Homo sapiens: one gene and its partners. The protein of the gene in region 7 interacts with the protein of the main gene of each other region in a pairwise test. Each region holds a gene or a part of one and is shown on either strand. Other genes may lie near its edges. The genes, in order: TMEM229B, PTPN9, ANKRD46, SPN, FXYD6, KLRG1 and ARL13B.

Evidence for each region.
Region 1: the proteins of ARL13B (region 7) and TMEM229B interact in binary tests that used the Homo sapiens proteins (3 or more experiments, as listed by UniProt).
Region 2: the proteins of ARL13B (region 7) and PTPN9 interact in binary tests that used the Homo sapiens proteins (3 or more experiments, as listed by UniProt).
Region 3: the proteins of ARL13B (region 7) and ANKRD46 interact in binary tests that used the Homo sapiens proteins (3 or more experiments, as listed by UniProt).
Region 4: the proteins of ARL13B (region 7) and SPN interact in binary tests that used the Homo sapiens proteins (3 or more experiments, as listed by UniProt).
Region 5: the proteins of ARL13B (region 7) and FXYD6 interact in binary tests that used the Homo sapiens proteins (3 or more experiments, as listed by UniProt).
Region 6: the proteins of ARL13B (region 7) and KLRG1 interact in binary tests that used the Homo sapiens proteins (3 or more experiments, as listed by UniProt).

Annotation. Positions count from the first base shown.
Region 1 is NC_000014.9:67,478,722-67,482,221, forward strand, and holds part of TMEM229B (transmembrane protein 229B), read right to left. Parts: intron 1-3,500.
Region 2 is NC_000015.10:75,502,816-75,506,315, forward strand, and holds part of PTPN9 (tyrosine-protein phosphatase non-receptor type 9), read right to left. Parts: intron 3,189-3,500; coding exon 2,860-3,188; intron 225-2,859; exon of another isoform or gene 188-224; intron 1-187. UniProt on the Homo sapiens protein: Protein-tyrosine phosphatase that could participate in the transfer of hydrophobic ligands or in functions of the Golgi apparatus.
Region 3 is NC_000008.11:100,532,260-100,535,759, forward strand, and holds part of ANKRD46 (ankyrin repeat domain-containing protein 46), read right to left. Parts: intron 1,053-3,500; 5' UTR 950-1,052; intron 202-949; exon of another isoform or gene 97-201; intron 1-96.
Region 4 is NC_000016.10:29,666,932-29,669,153, forward strand, and holds part of SPN (leukosialin precursor), read left to right. Parts: 3' UTR 1-2,222. UniProt on the Homo sapiens protein: Predominant cell surface sialoprotein of leukocytes which regulates multiple T-cell functions, including T-cell activation, proliferation, differentiation, trafficking and migration.
Region 5 is NC_000011.10:117,866,659-117,870,158, reverse strand, and holds part of FXYD6 (FXYD domain-containing ion transport regulator 6 precursor), read left to right. Parts: intron 1-3,500. UniProt on the Homo sapiens protein: Associates with and regulates the activity of the sodium/potassium-transporting ATPase (NKA) which catalyzes the hydrolysis of ATP coupled with the exchange of Na(+) and K(+) ions across the plasma membrane.
Region 6 is NC_000012.12:8,988,287-8,992,345, reverse strand, and holds the start of KLRG1 (killer cell lectin-like receptor subfamily G member 1), read right to left. Parts: upstream 2,801-4,059; 5' UTR 2,711-2,800; coding exon 2,629-2,710; intron 2,135-2,628; exon of another isoform or gene 2,001-2,134; intron 141-2,000; coding exon 36-140; intron 1-35. UniProt on the Homo sapiens protein: Plays an inhibitory role on natural killer (NK) cells and T-cell functions upon binding to their non-MHC ligands.
Region 7 is NC_000003.12:93,983,155-93,986,654, reverse strand, and holds part of ARL13B (ADP-ribosylation factor-like protein 13B), read right to left. Parts: intron 1-3,500. UniProt on the Homo sapiens protein: Cilium-specific protein required to control the microtubule-based, ciliary axoneme structure. May act by maintaining the association between IFT subcomplexes A and B. Binds GTP but is not able to hydrolyze fit; the GTPase activity remains unclear.

The DNA of each region.
Region 1 (3,500 bases), on a different chromosome or scaffold from region 7:
TGAACCCTCCTTTAAGACCCAGCTCCTCCTCTGTGAGGACTTTCCTAAGCACCCTGACTCCAGAGTTGTCTTCCCACTTCTGCACCCTCCCTTCTCTGTGGTAATAGTGAGCACTCTGCTTCACTGGATTCATCTGAACGCCAGCACCAGCAGCCTCCTGAGGAATGCTTGTTTAAGATAGTGGTAAGAGAAAAAAGCAGGATTCAAAACTGAATATTCAACCTAACTCCGATTCTGCAAAGGCATGCATATGTGCACATATACAAAAAAATTAAACAACAATCATCTCTGGATGGTGATATCATATGTGCTTTTTTTCTTTATATTTTTCTGCATACTTTTTTTTCCTAACAAGCATGTATAACTTTTATAAAACTAAAATTTCATCTTAAAAATGCTTATGGAGGCTGGACGTGGTGGCTCACCCTGTAAACCCAGCACTTTGGGAGGCTGAGGTGGGTGGATCATGAGGTCAGGAGTTCAAGACCAGCCTGGCCAACATGGTGAAACCCTGTCTCTACTAAAAGTACAAAAATTAGCTGGGCGTGGTGGCGTGTGCCTGTAATCCCAGCTACTCGGGAGGCTGAGGCAGAAGAATTGCTTGAACCGGGACCCAGGAGGTGGAGGTAGCAGTGAGCGAGATCGTACCACTGCACTCCAGCCTGGGCTACAGAGCAAGACTCTGTCTCAAAAAAAAAAAAAAATGCTTGTGGAAGCTGGGTGCAGTAGCTCATGCCTGTAATCCCAGTACTTTGGGAGGCCGAGGTGGGTAGATCACCTGAGGTCAGGAGTTCGAGACCAGCCTGGCCAACATGGTGAAACCACATCCCTACTAAAAATACAAAAATTAGCCGGGCATGGTGGCATGCACCTGTAATCCCAGCTACTCGGGAGGCTGAGGCAGGAGAATCGCTTGAACCTGGGAGGCGGAGGTTGCCGTGAGCCGAGATAGCGCCACTGCACTCTAGCCTAGGTGACAGAGTGAGACTCCGTCTCAAAAAAGGAAAAAAAAATGCTTGTGGAATGAATATGTATTCACCGTATTCATACCTCGTGTATAGAAGGTGTTCAATGAATTTGCTAAGCAAATGAACCCAAAGAAACCTGAAGTCATGTAAAATTATTGCAGGCTCTTCCCTCCTGTGTCATCCAACAACAAACCATGCCTCACAGGTCTCAATATGGCCAGCTGGTTAAGTTCAGGGACCCCAGATGATCCTAACTGCCTGGGTTGGAATCCTGGCTGATGCTTTCCACCTGTGAGACCTAATGGACGCTGCCCAACCACCCTGTGCCTCAGGGTCCTTGTAGGTAAAGTGAGGATAACGGAAGTAATGACCACAGAAGGCTGTTGTGAGGACGAATGAACTCGTACATATACACTACTTAAAATACAGCTAAGGCTCCAGAAAGGGCAGCTGTCATTTCTGGCACAGAGCCAGACCTCTGGACAGCCCCTCCTGCTTTTACACCGCCTCTTACCCGATGCAGGGTCACTGTGCCCCTGCTCTCGGCAGCCTCCAGGCAGCCCTTCCTGTCAAGCAGGTTAGGTCTTCATCACAACCCTGAGCACCAAGCTAGCGAGCCAAGAAATCGGGTGGCAATAATAACCCCACATATGGCCCTCAGGAGAACAAAACTCCCACAGACATCCCGGGAGACTGAAGGTGAGCCTCCAGCTTCCCTGTGGCTACCGAGGGATGAATGGAAGAGGAAGGGTGTCAGAGCCAGCCCGAGGGGCAGACTTGAAAAGATGGTGGAATGAAAGGGGCACAGCCTCTCACCCCCTCATTTAACCTCCTACCCCCGGGCAGGAGAGAACAGATCCAGGCTCCAGGGGAACACACTGAGGCGGTCTGAGGGCCTGAGACAGATGGCACAGCACAGGGATGTGGAGACCTCTGGACCTCCTACCCCAACTCAGGCCCCATGACCTGCACGTATCCCCCTGGCTCTTCCAACCCCCAGGGCCCGGGCTGAGGGAACAGGAACCTCACAGGGGCTCTCCTGCAGCAGCCTGACATGACTGTGTGGATCTCATTACTCAGGCCAGACCCCAGCCTTGAAGCTGACTTTAAACCCTGCTCTTCTTGCCTCTGATCTCTCTGGGATGGCCCAGACCGGTTTCCCAGCTGGTAACAGACGGGAGGGTCCAGTCTCTTCCCCAACCCCAGCAAGTAACTTGGGAGAGTCAGATCCCAAAACCCTTGGAGCAGAAGCAAGAAGAAAGGGGTAGCTGTCAAAGGGAGAGAGAAACCTAGGGTGAGAGACAGGAAGTTGCTGAACAGAAGAGAGGATGGAGTTCATGCCTGCAGTCCCAGCACTTTTGGAGGCTGAGGTGGGAGAATAGCTTGAGGCCAGGAGTTCGAGACCAGCCTGGGCAACATAGCGAGACCACCATCTCTACAAAAAGAAAAAAAAGTAGGCTGGTTTGATGTGGTGTGCCTGTAGTCCCAGACGCTAAGGCAGGAGGATCCCTTGAGTTCAAGAGTTTGAGGCTACAGTGAGCTATGATTGTGCCACTGCACTCCAGCATGGACAATGAGCAAGACCCTGTCTCTTAAAAAAGAAAGAAAGAAAGAAAAACAAAAAAGCGAGATGGGGGAGAGAGAAATATGGTGTGCCCCAAGCCCAGATTCTGTTTCTGGGCAGCAGGAAGCCATGGGTAGTAGATGGAGGGGAAGCACACCACGGCAATGTCAGACAGTGTCCGAGGGCAGAACTAGGAGAACATAGCTGGTCCATGCAAGACCAACAGGGGAAATGAAAGACCTGAGTCAGGGCAGAAGATGGGGTTGAAGAGAAAGGAATAGGAGACAGTGTCATTGGCTGAGGTGGCAGCTCCCAGTGTGGTGGGGAAGATGATAATATTAGAGGCTGGGCATTGACTTGGATGCGTTTTCAGAACCCCACTCTCCAAACCCATTTCTAATCAGCACAGGAGCTGTGCTTAACTTTGAGCTAGGACAGGCTCGCCCACCCCATACAGGGCCTGACAGGCCTCTATTCCCTGCCCCGGCCTCCACCCACCCGACTCCCTATATCCTTAGGCTCCTTCCACTAGCTCCTTGCTCAGCCCTGGGATCAGAGCCCTGGGAAAGCCTGCTGCAGGGAGAACCGGCAGCTCAGGGGACCTTGGCTTCTTTCTCCTGGTGACAAACAAAACTGTCCTGAGACCTGTGACATGAAGATAGGACAGCCCAGGAACAGAAATTCAGGGTGGATTGAAGAGGAGGAGAGTGTGAGCAAGGTTGAATGCAGGAGGACAGAGTTTGGAGAGCAAAGGATAGCTTCACAAGCAGGGTTTCATTGAACAACATTCAAATCCGAGAGTCCTCATACCTGATGAAAGGGCCTGGGCAAACAGAGTCCCATCGAAGGGCCAGGACTCAAGGTGACTTGTGAGGTCTAGGAACTACCCCTTCAAGGGAACAGGTGATGGGGAAGGGGAAGGGGATCTGGCTTTCAGAGCCCTGTTCACTAAGAGCATCTCACCGGCT
Region 2 (3,500 bases), on a different chromosome or scaffold from region 7:
CCTACTTTTTTTAAAAAAAACTTGCATTTCAGAAAAATATCCAAAAATATGTCCAACAGGGTTATCCTGTTGGTACCAAAGACCTTCAGAAATTTCAGAGCATAGGATGTTAGCAAGAAGCACCCAATGGTGCCCAGGCTGGAGTGCAGTGGCGTGATCTCAGCTCACTACAACCTCCATCTCCCAGCCGCCTGCCTTGGCCTCCCAAAGTGCCGAGATTGCAGCCTCTGCCCGGCCACCACCCCGTCTGGGAAGTGAGGAGCGTCTCTGCCTGGCCGCCCATCGTCTGGGACGTGAGGAGCCCCTCTGCCTGGCTGCCCAGTCTGGAAAGTGAGGAGCGTCTCTGCCCGGCCGCCATCCCATCTAGGAAGTGAGGAGCGCCTCTTCCCGGCAGCCATCCCATCTGGGAAGTGAGGAGCATCTCTGCCCGGCCGCCCATCGTCTGAGATGTGGGGAGCGCCTCTGCCCCGCTGCCCCGTCTGGGATGTGAGGAGCTCCTCTGCCCGGTCGCGACCCCGTCTGGGAGGTGAGGAGCGTCTCTGCCCAGCCGCCCCGTCTGAGAAGTGAGGAGACCCTCCGCCCAGCATCCGCCCCATCTGAGAAGTGAGGAGCCCCTCCGCCCGGCAGCCGCCCCGTCTGAGAAGTGAGGAGTCCCTCTGCCCGGCAGCCACCCCGTCTGGGAAGTGAGGAGCGTCTCCGCCCGGCAGCCGCCCCGTCCGGGAGGGAGGTGGGGGGGTCAGCCCCCCGCCCGGCCAGCCGCTCCGTCCGGGAGGGAGGTGGGGGGGTCAGCCCCCCGCCCGGCCAGCCGCCCCGTCCGGGAGGTGAGGGGCGCCTCTGCCCAGCCGCCCCTACTGGGAAGTGAGGAGCCCCTCTGCCTGGCCAGCCACCCCGTCCGGGAGGGAGGTGGGGGAGTCAGCCCCCAACCCGGCCAGCCGCCCCATCCGGGAGGGAGGTGGGGGGGGGGTCAGCCCCCCGTCCGGGAGGGAGGTGGGGGGGTCAGCCCCCCGCCCGGCCAGCCGCCCCGTCCGGGAGGGAGGTGAGGGGGGGTCAGCCCTCCGCCCGGCCAGCCGCCCCGTCCGGGAGGGAGGTGGGGTCAGCCCCCCGCCCGGCCAGCCGCCCCGTCCGGGAGGTGAGGGGCGCCTCTGCCCAGCCGCCCCTACTGGGAAGTGAGGAGCCCCTCTGCCGGGCCAGCCGCCCCGTCCGGGAGGGAGGTGGGGGGCTCAGCCCCCCGCCCGGCCAGCCGACCCGTCCGGGAGGGAGGTGGGGGGATCAGCACCCCGCCCGGACAGCCGCCCCGTCCGGGAGGGAGGTGGGGAGGTCAGCCCCCCGCCCGGACAGCCGCCCCGTCCGGGAGGGAGGTGGGGGGGTCAGCCCCATGTCCGGGAGGGAGGTCGGGGGGGTCAGCCCCCCGCCCGGCCAGCCGCCCCGTCCGGGAGGGAGGTGAGGTCAGCCCCCTGCCCGGCCAGCCGCCCCGTCCGGGAGGTGAGGGGCGCCTCTGCCCAGCCGCCCCTACTGGGAAGTGAGGAGCCCCTCTGCCGGGCCAGCCACCCCGTCCGGGAGGGAGGTGGGGGGCTCAGCCCCCCGCCCGGCCAGCCGACCCGTCCGGGAGGGAGGTGGGGGGATCAGCCCCCCGCCCGGCCAGCCGCCCGGTCCGGGAGGGAGGTGGAGGGGTCAGCCCCACGTCCGGGAGGGAGGTGGGGGGGGTCAGCCCCCCGCCCAGCCAGCCGCCCCGTCCAGGAGGTGAGGGGCGCCTCTGCCCTGCCGCCCCTACTGGGAAGTGAGGAGCCCCTCTGCCCGGCCAGCCGCCCCGTCTGGGAGGGAGGTGGGGGGGTCAGCCCCCCGCCCGGCCAGCCGCCCTGTCCGGGAGGGAGGTGGGGGGGTCAGCCCCCCGCCCGGGAGGTGAGGGGCGCCTCTGCCCGGCCGCCCCTACTGGGAAGTGAGGAGCCCCTCTGCCCGGCCAGCCGCCCCGTCCGGGAGGGAGGTGGGGGGGTCAGCCCCCCGCCTGGCCAGCCGCCCCGTCCGGGAGGGAGGTGGGGGGGTCTGGCCAGCCACCCCGTCCGGGAGGTGAGGGGCACCTCTGCCCAGCCACCCCTACTAGGAAGTGAGGAGCCCCTCTGCCCAGCCACCACCTCGTCTGGGAGGTGTACCCAACAGCTCATTGAGAACGGGCCAGGATGACAATGGCGGTTTTGTGGAATAGAAAGGGGGGAAAGGTGGGGAAAAGATTGAGAAATCGGATGGTTGCCGTGTCTGTGTAGAAAGTAGACATGGGAGACTTTTCATTTTGTTCTGTACTAAGATAAATTCTTCTGCCTTGGGATCCTGTTGATCGGTGACCTTACCCCCAACCCTGTGCTCTCTGAAACATGTGCTGTGTCCACTCAGGGTTAAATGGATTAAGGGCGGTGCAAGATGTGCTTTGTTAAACAGATGCTTGAAGGCAGCATGCTCGTTAAGAATCATCACCACTCCCTAATCTCAAGTACCCAGGGACACAAACACTGCGGAAGGCCGCAGGGTCCTCTGCCTAGGAAAACCAGAGACCTTTGTTCACTTGTTTATCTGCCAACCTTCCCTCCACTATTGTCCTATGACCCTGCCAAATCCCCCTCTGCGAGAAACACCCAAGAATGATCAATAAAAAAAATAAAAATTTAAAAAAAAAAGAAAAAAAAAAAGAAGCACCAAAGCAGAAAGTACCTCTTTCTGCATGCGAGAAACCATCATTTATGTGAGAGTGATGTTCCCTAACATAAGGAAGGGTCTCTGCTAAGCAAGTGAGGGGTGGAAGGAGCTGTTGCCAGAGCCTACCAGAAGCATCCTGGTAACCAGCTGCTGGCCCAAACTTTTTCTACTTACATGGAACAGTGGAAAGTGCCAACAGGGTTCTCACGACGAATGTCTTCATATTCCTCATAGATTCCTTGCTTTTGCCTGGCATTAACATAGTCCACCAACTCTTGGATGGTCATAGCATGGGGACCTGGAACATGTACTGAGTCCCAGTCTAAGGCAGGAGGGAGGGAGAACAGGATGATCTCATCGAAGGGATCTGGGTGGCCGTTCACCTGGGGTAGGAACTGGAAATTCCAAGTGGCGAGATCAATTTTGACGTACCCACCCAGGTTTTCTGGAAGACACTCCCTGGGCAGATGCTGCGTGACCTCAGATGTCTTTAATATTTGAATCTGGAAGGTTAGAAAGAACCATGTGAGTATGTGGGAGGAGGGAAAGGCATATAGAGTGACAAAGAATAAATGTATTTATATCAGGTTTGGAGGATGGGATAAGATTTTCTTGAAATACAAGGTATACTTGTAAAAGTAGTAGACTACATTTCATCTGCCTGAGATTTAAGTCCTATGAATTTGCCAGATAAAAGTGTGAACTCCCAGAATGTATATAAAATTCACTCCTGGAATTAGGGACACTGTTATACATCTTCTGAAAGGACGATGTAGTGAACAAAAGCTTTATATTATTAACAAGGCTTCCCAGCA
Region 3 (3,500 bases), on a different chromosome or scaffold from region 7:
AGTTCGAAACTAGCCTGGGCAACATAGCGAGAGACCCTGTCTCTATAAAATATTTTAAAATTAGCCAGGCATGGTGGCGCGCGCCTTTCGTCCCACCTGTTCGGGACGCTGAGGTGAGAGGATCACTTGAGCCCGGGAGGTCGAGGTTGCGATGAGCTGTGATTGAGCCACAGCACTCCAGCCTGGGCATCAAAGTGAGGCCTGTCTCAAAAAAACAAACCAAACCAAACCAAACCAAACCAACAAACAGAAAAACTCAATGAGAAGAATTTACTCAATAAAATAGTCAAGAATTCTTTTGCGAGGGTAATCTAAATATTTTCCCTTACAGCAAGGGTGTCCAACATTTCGGCTTCCCTGGGTCACAATGGAAGAAGAATTGTCTTGGGCTACACATAAAATACATAATGATAGCTGATAAGCTTTAAAAAATTGCAAAAAAAATCTCAGAATGTTTTTTAAAAGTTTATGAATTTGTGTTGGGCTACATTCAAAGCTGTTCTGGGCTGCAGGTTGGACAAGCTTGCACAGTATTGAATCATAAAAATGGAAAAGCTATCATAAACCTTTTTCAAAATGAAATGCCACATATCAAGTGCTTTTCAAAAGGTAATGTGTTTTGGTTAAATTTTTAAAAATAGATAATTTAAAAAATCTAGTTGGTGTTTTTGATTCAGACACAGTAAGAATTCTTGTGGTTTGCAGACTAGGATACTTCTGAGTGTTGGCTCAGCAAGAAATACAAGTCTCTGTGTCTATTTTTCAGGTGAGAACAAGTGTGTATTTTGTCAGTTTCTCTGTGTCCCTGAGCAACTACTAAACTTAATCCCACATTTAATAAGCCCAATGATAGTTATTTTTCATCTTGATCACAGAACTGAATCTGTCCTAAAGCAGTTCACTGAAGGTTTCACATCTTGTGAGGAAGTCCACAGTAGTAAATACTCACGTAAGCCTTAAGATTAGATCTTTTCGTTCAGTGGTCACTCAGCAGTTTCTCTGAATTCTCAAGAAGGTTCAACAAAAATATTCTGTAATGTGCTGGCAAGGATCTACAGTAAATAGAAAATTAAGTTATAATAGAAGTGTGGTGAGAAAAAGAACTCACTGTTCTATTAAATACAGACAGGTTACTGAGCCTGAAGAAATTCTCTAGAAAATCTGTAGGTGAGGCATCAACTTGTGAGGCCAGAAAAATATCTGACGAGTAACAAAGTAGTGAAAAGGAAGCAAAGAAGGGCTTAATAGAAGCTGCTCTGTGGCCCACAAACAAGAAAGCAAGACAGAAAGATAAAAGAATAAGAATCAAATTATGTGCCATCACTAAAGAACAAATTGGGCTCCGAAAATTCACTCTCAGTCATTACTTGGAATTCAGAATGCATATTTTTCACATTATAAATGGAGGCTAGATCCCAGATTAGTCCACAAAAGCATTTTTATAAATAAAATACTATTCATAGTGGGAAAAAATAAGTTTAAAAAGCCAATACTTATATTTAAACCAAACAGGATACATTTAAGAAAAAGTATTTCTAATCTACCTTGAATGCTGGTACTTAAATCTCTTTAAATCTGTTCCCTTCCTTGTCTTTTCAGTGTGAAATAAAAGCTGGCCCAAGTCTATCTGTAGTCTTCTTTACATAGCCTGACGCTGCTCCCCCACCCAGGCTGCACTTCTCTGCACTGAGAGAGACTACGAGGGCACCCTGTCTGCCCACTCAGCTCTTCTCTGGAAGGACCGTGGAAGCAGGGTCATGGGCAGGCAGTAAGGACCACAAAAATAGCAATATTAGTTCATGAAACAAACATTCACTGTGTGCCTGCAATGTGCCAGATACCATGCTATCAAGTCCAAATCCCAAATTCCTGGTCAGGGTGAAATACAGGTTAACTTTTTACCGATCATCCTTGTTCATTGTTATCAAATCCCTGTGAACAAATTTATATAGGGAAATAATTAATGGTATTTTACAAAGCTCCATTTACAATATGTAAGTCAGGTTGTATCATAAAGGCTATCAGTGCTAGGCTGGAACTGATGACAATAGCTGACAAACTGTACCTGAGGACCAGTCCCACACGAGGGTCAGTAAATATCACGAAGACATGATAACACACAAAACATCTACGCTCCTCATTTCCTACTTCTTTTGTGATACCACAGTATCAATTTAGACGAACTTCATATCACGGAGCCACTTACCTTGATTTCCTTAAACAAATATTATGTATTCACCCAAAGCCTAATATTTTTCCTCTCTTGTCCTGACCTCTAGAGCTGAGTCTTTAACGACTAGAGCCTGTCTCTAATGTATGATTTGGCTTTAATTTTCAATGTTAATTAAAATGGTGCAAGTGGGTTATTCTGGATGTGGTAGAGCTCACATTAGGGAAAAAGAAAAAATTTTGTTTTTCATCTAGAGATGGAATTATAGTTCATATGGTCATGCCCCCAAATAATCCTAATGTTCTCTTAAATCCACAAGAAGGACAATGCTTCTGCAATTTTTTCTTTTTTTATTTTTGAGACAGAGTCTCACTCTGTCGCTGGTGCCGGAGTGCAGTGGTGCAATCTCGACTCACCTGCAGAGGCCTCCGCGTTCAAGCAATTATCCTGCCTCAGCCTCCCCAGTAGCTGGGACTACAGCCATGTGCCACCATGCCTGGGTAATTTTTGTATTTTTAGTGGAGATGAGGTTTCACCATGTTGGCTAGGCAGGTCTTGAACTCCTGACCTCAGGTGATCCACCCACCTTGGCCTCCCAAAGTGCTGGGATTACAGGCGTGAGCCACCGCAACCAGCCTGCCATTTTCTTTGGATATTACAATGGCCCATAAGAAAATACACTTGAACAAATTACAGATTTGTATGATTTCATAATAATATTATACAAATTCATTAGACTAAATTACTAGAAACCTGCCAAGAAAACTTCCAAGACCTCAGTTAGACCTTACTCACTAGACTCTGTTAATAGCTTCCCTAAGAAGTCATAAAGTGAATACAAATCAGAGCACATATTTAACGATTGTCCAATGGGTGAAGAGGACTAAAGACTTTTTTAAATTAAACTTTTTGAGATAATTATAAATTCATATGCAGTTGTAAGAAATAACACAGAGTGATCCTGTGCACCCTTTATCCAGTTTCCCCCAATGGTAACATCTTGCCAAACTATAGTACAACATCACAACCAGGATACTGACATTGATATAGTCAAGATACAGAACATTTCCATCACCATGAAAAATCTCTCATATGTTGCCCTTTTTAGCTATTCCTGCTTCCCTCCCATGCCAGTCTCTCCTTAACACCTAGAAAACACTACCTAGTCTTCCACTTCTTTAATTCTGTCATTTCAAGAATGTTGTATAAATGGAGCCATACAGCACATACAGGAACCTTTTGGGATTGGTCTTTTCACTCAGTATAATTCTCTGGAGATTCATCCAGGGTAGCTGTGTGTATCCATAGTTTGTCCCTTTTTTATCCATAG
Region 4 (2,222 bases), on a different chromosome or scaffold from region 7:
AGCAGACAGGTTGACCTGCAAAAAAAGACAGGGGAGGCATGTGAGTGTGACAGCCCTGCTCTGTGGCCTGGGCAGGAGATGGGGGAAAGGGTCAGGTGGGGGATGGGCTCGTGCAGTGGGAGAGGAGACGGAGGGAGGGAGCGGGAAGGGGCTTGCTTAGTGGGTGGGAAGAGCTGAGCTCGGATGGAACCAGCTTCTACCAGCCAGGCTGGGCACCCACTGGGCTGCATCTGGTGGCCTTTTCTGATTGCTATTTGGACTCACTGCAGCTGCAGAATGACAGAGGCCATGTCCAAAATCCCTTAGAGACACTGTTGTCTTAGAGTTGTTAAAATAAGAGCCCCCATATCAGGTTTAGAAAATACTGTCACCGAACGAACGTCGCTGTCCTCAGCTCCACCTCCCTTTCCTTTGACAGATATGGTTGTTTTCTAAGCCAGGACTGGTTTTAGTCAGGTCCTGGGCGAATCCTGAAAAAAAGAGGTAGTACGGGTAAGGAAGGCACCCAACAGGGCTTTCACAATCCAGAAAATATCAAAATATAAGTGTTAAAAGAGAGGCACAGGCCGGGTGCGGTGGCTCACGCCTGTAATCTCAGCACTTTGGGAGGCCAAGGTGGGCAGATCATGAGGTCAGGAGTTTGAGACCAGCCTGGCCAATATGATGAAACCCCGTTTCTACTAAAAATACAAAAGTTAGCCAGGCATGGTGGTGTGCTCCTGTAATCCCAGCTACTTAGGAGGCTGAGGCCAGAGAATTGCTTGAACCCTGGAGTCAGAGGTTGCAGTGAGCCGGGATCATGCCACTGTACTCCAGGCTGGGTGACAAAGTGAGACTGTCTCAAAAAATAAAAATAAATAAAATAAATAAAAGAGAGGCACAAACAGTGTTATGAATGCACCAAGGAAAATGGTGCATTCATAACTCTCAGGTGAAGCCTACCAAGCCATGCGTGTGTGCACATATGTGTGTACGTGTGCATGTGCGTGCGTGCATGTGCGTGCGTGCATGTGCCTGTGTGTGTATGTGTGCACATGTGTGTGCGCATGTGTGTGTGTGCGCGCATGTGTGTGTGCATGCATGTTCTCCCATGCATGTGTACTGTGGCAAGGGAGACTTTGAGGAAGAGATTCCAGTGGCTGAGCAGAAGGGCTCGCATTGCCCTGGCGAAAGGTTGGAAGGCTTCACCTGAGAGTGTGTCGTGGCCTTTGTCATATCCACTGCTTGATTCCTTTCTTTAAAAATTATTTTTATTGTTTTCTACATATGAGAACCACCACACCTGGCTAATTTTTGTATTTTTTGTAGAGATGGGGTTTCACCATGTTGTCCCGGCTGGTCTCAAACTCCCGGGCACAAGAGATCCACCTGCCTCAGCCTCCCAAAATGCTGGGACTATAGGCATGAGCCACTGCACCCAGCCACTGCTTCATTCCTGGTGGCTGCTGTGCCTGGCATGTTGCAGATCCTCCATGAATATGCATTTGAATGAATGAATGAATGAATGAATGAATGAATGGAGATGACGCCTCAGAGATTCTTTCTTTTGAGATGAGGTCTCATTCTGTCACCCAGACTAGAGGGCAGTGGTGCAATCACAGCTCACCACAGCCTCAACCTCCTGGGCCTCCCAAGTAGCTGCGATCACAGGTGTGCACCAACATGCCCAGCTAATTTTTTTTTTTAATTTTTAATTTGTACAGACAGGGTCTTGCTGTGTTGCCCAGGCTGGTCTCAAACTCCTGGGCTCAAGTGGTCCTCCCACCTAAGCTTCCCCAAATACTGGGATTATAGGTGTGAGCCACTGTGCCCAGGCTTGCCTCAGATATTTGAAGGCTGGGAAGGATTTTGCAAAGCTGGGAAAAGGAAAAGGCATTCCCAGCAGAGGGGATAGCAGGTGGAAATACATAATTAAAAAAAAAAAACGTGGAGCAGATCCAGCGCAGTGGCTCATGCCTGTAATCCCAGCACTTTGGGAGGCAGAGCAGGGAGGATTGCTTGAGTCTAGGAGTTCAAGACCAGCCTGGGTAACATAGAAAGACCCTGTCTCTACAAAAACACAAAAAATTAGCCAGGCGTGGTGGTGCATGCCTGTAGTACCAGCTACTTGAGAAGCTGAGGCAGGAGGACTGCTTGAAGCCAGGAGTTTGAGACCAGCCTGGGCAACATAGTGAGACCCCGTGTCTACAAAAAGTAAACATTTATATATATATTTTTTAAAG
Region 5 (3,500 bases), on a different chromosome or scaffold from region 7:
TGCCTGAGTTGGCCTCGCAGTACTGTTCTGTGTTTCTGCTTCTGAGGGCTGTTGTGAGAAGTCCATGGGTGATGGCTGGGATGCCACAGTGTCACGGTTGTCAGTGATGGTGAGGTGACAGCAAGACCTGGGAAGGGGGCTGGGGCCCCACGGACCAGGCTGGGGCCCAGAGAATGGGGCTGCCCCAGTTCAGAATATCTGATGTGGGCAGAGAGGGCCAAGGATGAGGGGATGTGATTGGAATGACAGTGACCCGCATGCAGCTGGAGGACAAAGCCAGGCCGGCACGCACTGAAAGACCAGAGGCTAAGATCTCTCCACCATGCCTCCGCTTATGGTCCAGCTTGGGATCTTTCCAGGGAGACTTCCAGAAAACAGGCCTGGATTTGTGATTTGTGAATTCTGTTTCTGTTTCTAAGGAAGAGGCCTTATTTCTTTTCACAGTCAGTTATTTTCTGTCTCTCTCTCTTCTTCTTCTTCTTCTTCTTTTTCCTCTGTCCAAGTTTCTCTTCCCTAGAAAGAACTTCATGTTTTCATGTTAAAGATAAAGGTGCCTCCAGGTTAAAAATAAGTCCCCTGCTATATGACAAGAGAGTTTTGCCTCTCCCGCTCCACCCTGTGCAGCCGGGCTGGGTTGGGTCTGGGCCGGTTGAGTCCAGGGTACCTGACGACTCAGCCTCCAGCACCCTCGCAGTGGGAGTGCCCCTCTTCCATGAATGAGGGTTGGAGGGGCAGCATTCGAGCCGTTGGGCTACTGAAGGCGCCTGACAGGAGAGGGAAAGGCCACCCTGGGAGGTGTCAGCCACAGTGATGCGCTGGGCGGAGGTGCCCTGTCCTGCTCCTAGACTGTCCAGCTGCCTTCCTGGCAGCTTGGGAAATTCAGCAGTGTCTGCAGCCTCCTTGAGCCATGGACTGCTGGAATTTCACCACCCTCTGCTCTGTCCTTTCCCTTGCCAGTCTCTGAGTCCAGTCTCCTCCTCGACTCCTCTCTGGAACATTGCTGGCTGGGCGGGGCGGGCAATCATTTCAAGTTAGGTGATTTAACAATAATTGATGCTTAATTGTTTATTTGATGGGCATTTAAAATGCAAATTGAGGGAACTGGTTGCATTTTCCACTGATGGATCTGTGGCCTCTGGTCGACCCAAAGCACTTGTTTTAAAAGGCAGCTTTAAAAGCCCTTGATGGTTGTTTGTTTGCTCTGAGGCTCTGAACCAGAGAAGCCCAGCTCCTGTTACAGATTCATCAAATGCCGGAAAGGTGAGCAGGAGCCGGAGTGCTGGGATGGGGTTGAGGATTGCTTTTAACTGAATTTTTGAATTTTTATTATTTTTCTACGAATAGACTATCTTTTTAGAACAGTTAGATTTACAGAAAACTTGGGCAGATTGTATGAGTTCCAATTTTCTCCCCTGGCATGCAGTTTCTGCTATTATTACGATCTTACATTAGGGTGGTACATTTGTTACAATTAATGAACAAATATTGGTACAATAATATTGACTAACATTGACACTTTATTAAAATGTCGTTCGTTTGTACCTTATGTCCTTTTTCTGTTCTAGGATCCCATCCAGGATACCACACTCCATTGAGTCGTGCCTCTTTTGGTGCCTCTGGGTGGTGACCTTTTCTCAGGCTTCCCAGGACTTTGACAGTTCTGAGGGTCACTGGTCAGGTGTATTGTAGGATGTGGCCCTGTTGGGATTTGTTCGATGTTCTCCTCATGATTAGACTGGAGTGATGGGTTTTAGGGAGGAAGATCACAGAGGGAAAGTGCCATTTTCATCACATCACACCAAGACGATACAATCAGGATGATTCATTGCTGTTGACGTTGATGGGACTGGGTTTTCCATCCCTTTCATGCCCCCCACGCAGCACAGTTTCAAGGCCTGGTGATTGGAGCTGTGTTCTCTCCGCTCCTCGAGACAAACATACCAAACCATCAGCCAGCACTTTCGGCCGTCCTCACCATCCCAGGTGAGGACAGATCATGGGGTAGCACAGAGACTTTTCCGATAGGAGAATCTTAATGAAGCGAGCATGAAACAGAATGTGCTATGCGCCAAATTAGTGCCAACGACAGGCGACAGGCGCTCTTGGAGTCTGGAGAAAGGGGTCTACGTGGAGTGGCAGCTGGACAAAGATAGCATTTATTAACCTTGGCTGCACATCAGAATGAGTGGGGGAGATTCTCAAAATTACCGATACCTTGGCTACACTGCCCTTGGCTACACTGCCCGGGTTTAGAGCTGAATGTGGCTGAGTTGATTTCCAGGCATCTTTTTTCTTTTCTTTCTTTCTTTCTTTTTTTTTTCTGAAGCTCTTCATGTGATCCTAAGGTACAACCAGGGTTGAGAACTGGAATAAACAAAGAAGGGAAGGGCATTGTAAGTAGAAGGAACAGAATATACAAAGGCACGCAGTTAGAGACACATGTGGCAGAAGATGGAACGTAGACCATCTTAGCTGAAAGTAATGAGAAGATACTGGAGGGGTAGAAGAGAGGTACACTTAGAGATTTTCATATGCCAGAAAGAAGTTTGGATTTTAAAAAACTAAATAGGACGTAGAGGCACCACCGAATGCCTTTGAGTTTGGGAGGGAGGTATTCAGAATACACTTTAGAAAGGTTAGTCCTGCAGTAATCAGTGTCCAGCACAGAGGGGAAGGAGGAGGTTAAAGATGGGTCCAGCTACTGCACTATTAGGTAAGTTACCCAGAGGAGTGACGGAAAGGAAGTTCCAATTAGAGAGATACTGCAAGTGCGAGCATGGCTAGGACTTTGCCACAGATGCAGTGTGGAGATGGGGAAGGAGAGAGGAAGCCCCGGAAACTTGGTGAGGCCGTAACCTCCGTCAGGCAGGGAGGCAGGGATTGTGTCTGTCTTGCTCACTGCAGTGTCCTCAGTGATGAGTGAAGTGCTGGAAAGCATTAGGCCATCAATAAATATTTGTTAACTTGGTTACTGGAAGGATAAGGGTGCCATTGTTTCCAAAATTACACCTTGTTCCAAAAGTACGCTCTTTCTCCCCCAATTTCTCCACCTAAATGCAGGCAAATTTCTCTGCTGTGGAAAGCAATCTGATTAAATAACTCAGGCCAAGATATAAATGACTGTTAGGATTGGGAGTATTTCTCTTGTAGTGATGCCGTGACATTTAAACGTCTCTCCTTGGGAAGAATTGTTGTGGAGGCAGATACATTTTTGAGTAGGGGTGGCCTTTATTTCGATTCTACACCCTCATCTAATTCTGAGCCATACCAGAAAAAAAGGTGATCTGCAGCTCTGCAGCCCACGGTGAAAGGCTGCCGGCTAGTAGTTCTGTTGGCACCCACCCTGAGCTGAGCTCCAGTGGACAGGATAGCCTACAACTGGTCTGGGACTCCATCCAGTACTCAGCATAAATGCACTGGTATTCTGCTAGGCAAAGTGCAGCGGGGCACTCAGCAGCTGTGAGATGGACAGAGGCTGAGAGGGACACAGGAGTGCCTGT
Region 6 (4,059 bases), on a different chromosome or scaffold from region 7:
ATGAAAGATTAATTTTGGTTTAAGTTTGCACTTACCCTGGCACAGGATCCACTGGTATAGCAGCACACTCAGAAGAACTGCAGTCAGAAGCCCCAAAGCTATTGCCACAAGGCAAGAACAAGAAGGCCTGGAAGAGGAAGCTGCAACAACAGAGTCAAAGCACAATCCTGAGTCAGATGACAGGTTGAAAGAAAAGAGAAAGTCAGGGAAGGATATCGCATCTTAAAGCAATTTGGCCTAGTGGGAACTGAGATCCAGGCCATAAAGATTCCTTTTCTAGATGTGTCAGGAACTTGCTCTAAAGTCTAAGGTAACCACCAACACCTGTATCAAAGAACTTACTATATTTATCAAGATAAAGAATGCTTTTTTCCTTTGAAACTGTGACTTACACTGTCTCATACTTAGGTGGTGAGAATACAAATTGGTACCTCTTTGGAGGACAATTGGGCAATATCTACCAAAACGGCAAAGGCATGTACCCTTTGACCTAGAAATTTCTCCTTAAGAAATTTTTCCTACAGATACTCGCGGGTGCAAAATGTCATATTTATTCGTGGCAGCAATATTTGTAGGAGGAGAAGACTGAATACAATCTACATTCTATCAGTAAAAGGCCAGTCAAATACATTTTTGATATATCCATAAAGTGAATATATAGCTTCTAATAAAAACTGGCTTTTTTTTTAACTGATATGGAATATTTTGTAAGATATATAGTCAAGACAAAGAAACATTCTGCAGAACAGGATATACAAATATCTCTGCAAGCACACTCAAGAATCTGATAACATTGTTTGCCTCTGGAATGGAAAAAACAGTCACTGGAGACAAAATAGGAAAAAGACTTTTTACCCTATTTTCTTTTGTACCTTTTGAATTTTGAACCATGTAAACATATTATCTACTCGAAATTGAAATACATAAAATTTAAATAAAAATAATCTACATTTCAGAAGTGCTTTGTAAACTGTCGTTATTAAAAGAGCAGTAAGTTTAAGTTGATGCCAAGTTTAAGAATAGGACACTACTTCATGTTAGCTGTGTTGCATACAACCGAAATCTAAATTTTAAATTTGAAAAATGGAAGTATTTTCAGCAAATCTTTATTTTAAAATCAAAGGTATCTCATAGTGCAATAGTGTAGAAATTACGTGTAACGAGCAAAACTCTGTGAAGTAAGATGATATTTAACTTCTAATTTTGATTCCTTTGCTTAATAACATTTAATTAGGAAATTAAACTTGCCTATTTGGGCTTCAATTTTCTGATTAAATTTTAGATAAATTATTCTATATATGTGTGTATCTATGGAGTATTCTGAACTTCTTAAAGAAAAAAATTCATAATGAGAGATGCCTTCATAAATAGAGAATTCTGCATAATAAATATTTGGACTGATGAATCCAAAAGCATTAAGATTTCTAGAAAAACTTTTAAAAATACATTTGCATCACAGGAGAACATTTAATGAAATACACAAATGTTCATTTTTATGTTATGCTAAATTTTAAAAAGGTATCAAACCATAATTGAATTTGTGTAACCACAAGCCAATTCAAGAAGTAAAGTAAATTTTTAAAATTTACTTTAAGTATATATTGAAAGCCTCTAAATAGTTCCAACTAGGTTCCAATTTATCACCAGTTGTGTGTGTGACCTTGAACATATACTTTGAGATATGCATTACTTCTAACGTAATATTTCTATTCCTTAGAAATTAACATAGATACAATTCAAAAATAGGAAAAGGTTACACAAATAAAGATATCCAATGCTATATAATTTATGGTAATAGAAATAGGTCTAAATATCCCAAGTATACTAGAATGATTTAGCAAATTAAGGCAACACTCTCAAAAGACATTAAAAATTATAATAGTAAAACTATGTAGTAAAAAGAGAGAAAGCTTAGGGAACTACCCTAAAGAATACACCTTGTGGGAGTTCACTGCCTACGATACAAAATCAAGGATTAATTTTGGCATTTACACTATTACCTGTCTGTCTCAGATAATATTCTCTCAGGGCTCTATGTAAAAATGGCTCTTTTGCCTTCAAATCCTCAGTCACAGAGACTATTATCTGTAGTTTCTTGATACTTTTTCTTCCCTGTCACCATTCTAGTGCAACACTGTGAAGTTAAAAAAAAAAAACAAAACTAGATATGTAAATCAGTTTCTTTCCTGACAAAAATCTTACTCGTATCCACCAGCAAAACTATTGGTGTCCTCCTCATTCCATAGTCAGAAAAACAGCCATACCTAGAATTTAAACAGCTGGTCCAAGGTTACTCCGAATATAACTAAAGAGATAAAATTCTCCCAACAAAGTTCCCGCTTTAGCTAAGAGCAAGAAGGAATAACGGCAATGCCCTAAGTTGGGTTTCTAAGATGCGATCAAAGAAGTGAACAGTTAGAAAAGAGTTTACCTGAGACCTAAGATCAGATCCTGTACCATACACCAACTTTTCATATTCCAACTCTGGACTTTAAACTGAACCAAAAGTATTTCCTCAAATTATCCTCAATTCTTCTGCACCCTCTGCTTTAAACTTATTCTACTCCCCATTCATCCATAGCCTACTGTTGCTATGCATCGTCTTCCATGCTACCTTGGTTAACTCACATTTTTGCTGTGGTCCATAGTCATTCTGGGCTTGGGTTGCCGTAGGCAACTCTAACATGGAATAAATAACACTGTCAGTCATCTTCAGCTAAGATCTTTCACATGCAGTTGAGAGAGTTAAATTATAGAAGTGTGAAGGGATATGTATCAGTGAGGAAACAGCCCAATCTCTAAACTGCTAGCAGGAAACTTCACAAAAGCAGAAGTAATTTTTCAGGAAATGATTCAAATTTGGGGGCTGCCTATAGAAATTAATATTGTAAGTTGCTATTTTTTTGCCCCATGACACTGTAGATGCTCACTAAATATATATTAAATTGATTCCCCATCTCACCTAATTCTGTTGAGCAAGGAAAAATTGCTCTCAAGTCCAGCAATTTCAGTTATGGAAACTAAAATAAAAGTGAGAGTGGTTACTAGCTATGAATTTCTCTCGGAATTTTTTCTCTGCTTTGTTTCCTTCTGAAAAAGTAGATGTATGCCAAATGAGACTGACTTCATCATTTCTTGGAACTTTTGGGCAGTGATAAGCAATAACGAAATGGACTGTTGGGTGCATATGCCTGGAATCACGGGAGAAATAGACTATTACCCAGATATATTTTGTGAATATGACATGACCACATCTTCCCCAAAACCTTGTCCAAATTGTGTGATGGTCTTTACCCTTCACAGTATCAGAAATTCCATTATATTTTTTCTCTTTGTTGTCTTATTTTTTTTATTATTATACTTCATGCAAAGATAACTAAAAAGAAGAGCAAAGTAAACAAATACATTCTAACATCTTAGTAATTTGTTTTTAGTAGGTGAAAAGTTAATAAAAAGTTAGAGTAGGCCAGGTGTGGTGGCTCACGCCTGTAATCCCAGCACTTTGGGAGGCCAAGGAGGGTGGATCACCTGAGGTCAGGAATTCAAGACCAGCCTGGCCAACATGGTGAAACCCCGTCTCTACTAAAAATACAAAAAAATTAGCTGGGTGTGGTGGTGGGGGCTGTAATCTCAGCTGCTCAGGAGGCTGAGGCAGGAGAATGGCTTGAAACCGGGAGGCGGAGGTTGCAGCGAGCCGAGACTGCACCATTGTACTCTATCTAGCCTGGGCAACAAGAGTGAAACTCCGTCTAAAAAAAACAAAAGTTAAAGTAAGGAAACAGAAAGAGTATTGAAACTCTTAAGAGTGGATAAGATCATCAAGATAGACTGCATAAGGATAAAAGAAGAGAAACAGGGAGTGCTTTATATTAATTTGTTTTATATTAATAAAAACAAATATATTTCTGCTTCCAGCCATGACAGAATGGCATTAGACTTACTCTCCAATCAAAATACAACACATGGCAAGACACACAAGGCAGCTATTTTCAGGAACACACAGGCAGCATTGTGATCCTTGAGAGAATACAAAGGTGAGTGCAATGATCACCCTAGCTT
Region 7 (3,500 bases):
TGCAAGTCAAAGAAAACATTTCGCTAAAAACACTAAAATCAAAGTTTGACACATCGGAACTCTATTATCTACAGTATTTAAAACTACATGAAGCAAATTCTAAATTTTAACATAAACATAAATTCTAAAAGTAACAAATACATATACAAAAAAAGACTTTAGAACAAGGTTTTATGATACATATGTGAGAATTTTAAAAAATCACTATACGACAAATTGATAGAAAGAAAAAAATGTATCGAAAAAACAGTGTGATTTTATTGCAGTACACTATTTTCTGACATTTCAATTCAGATCTAGAACCCCATATTACAGCAAAATCATTATCTAAATTTACTGAGTATGAATAAATAGTGAGAAGGCCAAGCTTGGGTTTATAGCCTGCTTTTAAGCCCTGATCAAGTCAAATTCTTAGTGTCCATTTTTTCATCTCTAAAATATAAGGGGGTAAAATAAGAATGTCTCTAGGTCCTTTTCTATATTAAAATTCTAAAATTCTTACTATGCATAATCAAGAAGAACTAGGGGGATAAAAAGAGATGTAAAATATTCCAGTTCAGCATACAGCACAATAGATAATCCTTGCTAATCTGTACATACAGCTTAATTGGAAAATTAAGAACTCAGCAATTTCTATAAATGGTCTAGATTTACAGTTATATTTATTTAGGCCAAGAATGATGGTATTAGGGAGCTAAGTATTCCCTCAGTGAAAAAGTTCATAGCAAAGAGGACAAAACAGACCACTAGAAACATTGTGTACTGTATCTTATTTTAGACTTGGCCACAGCAAACAATTTACTAATAAATTTGAAGTAAAGCTTTGATAGGTTGTATTTGTGATGCTGAAAAAACACAGATGGACAAGAAATCAGTTCCAATTAAAGGTTAACTCTGTGGAAGAATGGTGGGAGATGAATAGGGGGCAGGAAGTTTCAAGGATTTGTTACCTACTTATTAAAATAAAATTGAAATATGATGACTAAAGATTAATATTTATAAAACCTGGCAGGCATATGGTACTTATTATATCTTTCTTTTTGGTTAAATAACAGTAAAAACATTTTTGTTAGTTATGTATGCATAATATATAAGAAGTTATATAACATGTATATTTTCATATAAACAAAGAATTTTGTTGCCAAAATTTGTATGCAAAATTTGTTGCATGAATTTCTTCAAGACCCAGGTAAAATTACACCCCTTCTAAAATCCTCTTTCCTGATTCTCATTAAAAATCTTAAAAATCATATTTCAACTCTTGCATATTCGATCATTATATTTTACATGCACTATTTCATCACCTAGATGCTATGTTATAAATAACAGGAGCTCAAAATCTGTAGATGAGAATGTGTAAGGGTTAGAATCTGCTATAAGGCCCAGAGATTTACTGAGCATCATAGCTTCACAGACCTTGTGTCCTGTACTCAGGATGAAGGCTGCTCCCTATAAGCTAAATAGATTGCAATAGATTAACAGTTTTTAATGTTAAAAATGAAAATATAAAACTACAAGAAAAAAGTATATGTGAATGTAATCTTGTAATGCTGATGAACTTTCTAAACATTACACTGAAACAGTAATATATTTGAATTTAAAATTTTTATTTAGTCTTATTGATTGATTGATTGATTGATTGATTGAGACAGGGTTTCACTTTGTCACCCAGGCTAGGCTGCAGTGGGGCAACCTGGGCTTACTGCAGCCTCCACCTCTTGGGCTCAAGCGATCCTCCTGCCTCAGCCCCCCAAGTAGCTCGGACTACAGGCACATGCCACTACTTCTGGCTAATTTTTTAAAACATTTTTGTACGGATGGGGTCTCACTATATTGCCCAGGCTGATCTCAAACTCCTAGGCTCAAGCGATCTTCCCAAGTGCTAGGATTACAGGTGTGAGCCACCACACCCAGCCTGAATTCAAACATTTTAAATGTTTATATTTAAAAAGCACAAAAAGTTGAAAATATAACAAATGGAAAGAAAATACTTGCAATATTATACAACTGATCCTTGAACAACACACGTTTGAACTGCACAGTTCTACTTACACACAAATTTGTTTTTAATGAAAGTTACACGTGTGCCTTCCTCTCCTGCCTCCTCTGCCTCCCCAGCCTCCATTTCCACCTCTTCTGCCTCTGAAACCTTCCTGAGACAGTAAGACCAACCCCTCTTCCTCTTTCTCCTCAGCCTACTCAATGGGAAGAAGATGAGGATGGAGACTTTTATGATGATCCACTTCCACTTAATAAATAGTCAATGTATTTTTTTCTTCTTTTTAATTTTTTTTTTTTTAGACAAGAGTCTTGCTCTGTCGCCCAGGCTGGAGTGCAGTGGCATGATCTCAGCTCACTGCAACCTCTGTCTCCCAGGTTCAAGTGATTCTCCTGCCTCAGCCTCCCAAGTAGCTGGTATTGCAGGTGCCCACCACCACACCCAGCTAATTTCTGTATTTTTAGTAGAGACAGGGTTTCGCCATGTTGGCCAGGCTGGTCTTGAACTTTTGACCTCAAGTGATCTGCCCACCTCAGCCTCCCAAAGTGCTGGGACTACAGGCGTGAGCCACCGTGCTCCGCCCCTTATGACTTTCTTAACATTTCCTTTCCTCTAACTTTAAGAATACAATAAATTATACATATAACATAAAAAATATGTGGTAACTGACTATTCATGTTATCAGTAAGGCTTCTAGTCAACAGGAGGCTATTAGTAATTAAGTTTTTTGGAAGTCAAAAGTTATATGTGGATTTCTGTCTGTGCTGGCAAGGCAGGGTTCAGTGCTCCTAAACCCTGCGTTGTTCAAGTGTCAATTGTACTACAGAGAAACAGTAGCTACGACAAACACTTAAAATTTCTTTTTAAAAATTCATTAAGAAAACACACCTGCCCCAATAGAAAAAACACAACAGTAATCAATGGACAACTGCTGAGAGAAACAAAAATGCGCAAGGAAAAAAAGTTAATCTTCCTAGTAATAAAAACAAAACAAAACAAAAAAAACCCCAGAAACTCAAAGCAGAAAGCAGGTTCCCCTATAATGTGAAGGAGATGAAAAACCGATGACTCTTGATTTTCTCAGTGAAAAAGGCACTCCAACGTACTGTTGGTAGGAGTAGAAACTGTGTTTTCTCTTTTTTAATCCTTTCTGAGGAGCAATTTGGTAACATATTTTTAAAAGATAAACTTAGGAACAATAAAATTTCAAGAGTTTATTTCCACATTCATTGATTCATGAATGGAGCCGTACCAAACTGAACCAAAATTCATGAATGGGGCCATACCAAACCCCAAATAAGTGGGGTTCAGTACTCCACTAAGGGGGATGAAGCGTTAAACTTTTATAAGATCTTGACTGCTGACCTAGACTGGTGCCTTAACACTTGATCTCTGACTCCTGCCTTGTCCTTATCACACAAATCTAATCCCTGATTCCAATGTCTGGAATAATATGCTCACTAGGAAAGGATCTAAGTGAGGAGAGGTGAACAAATACAAT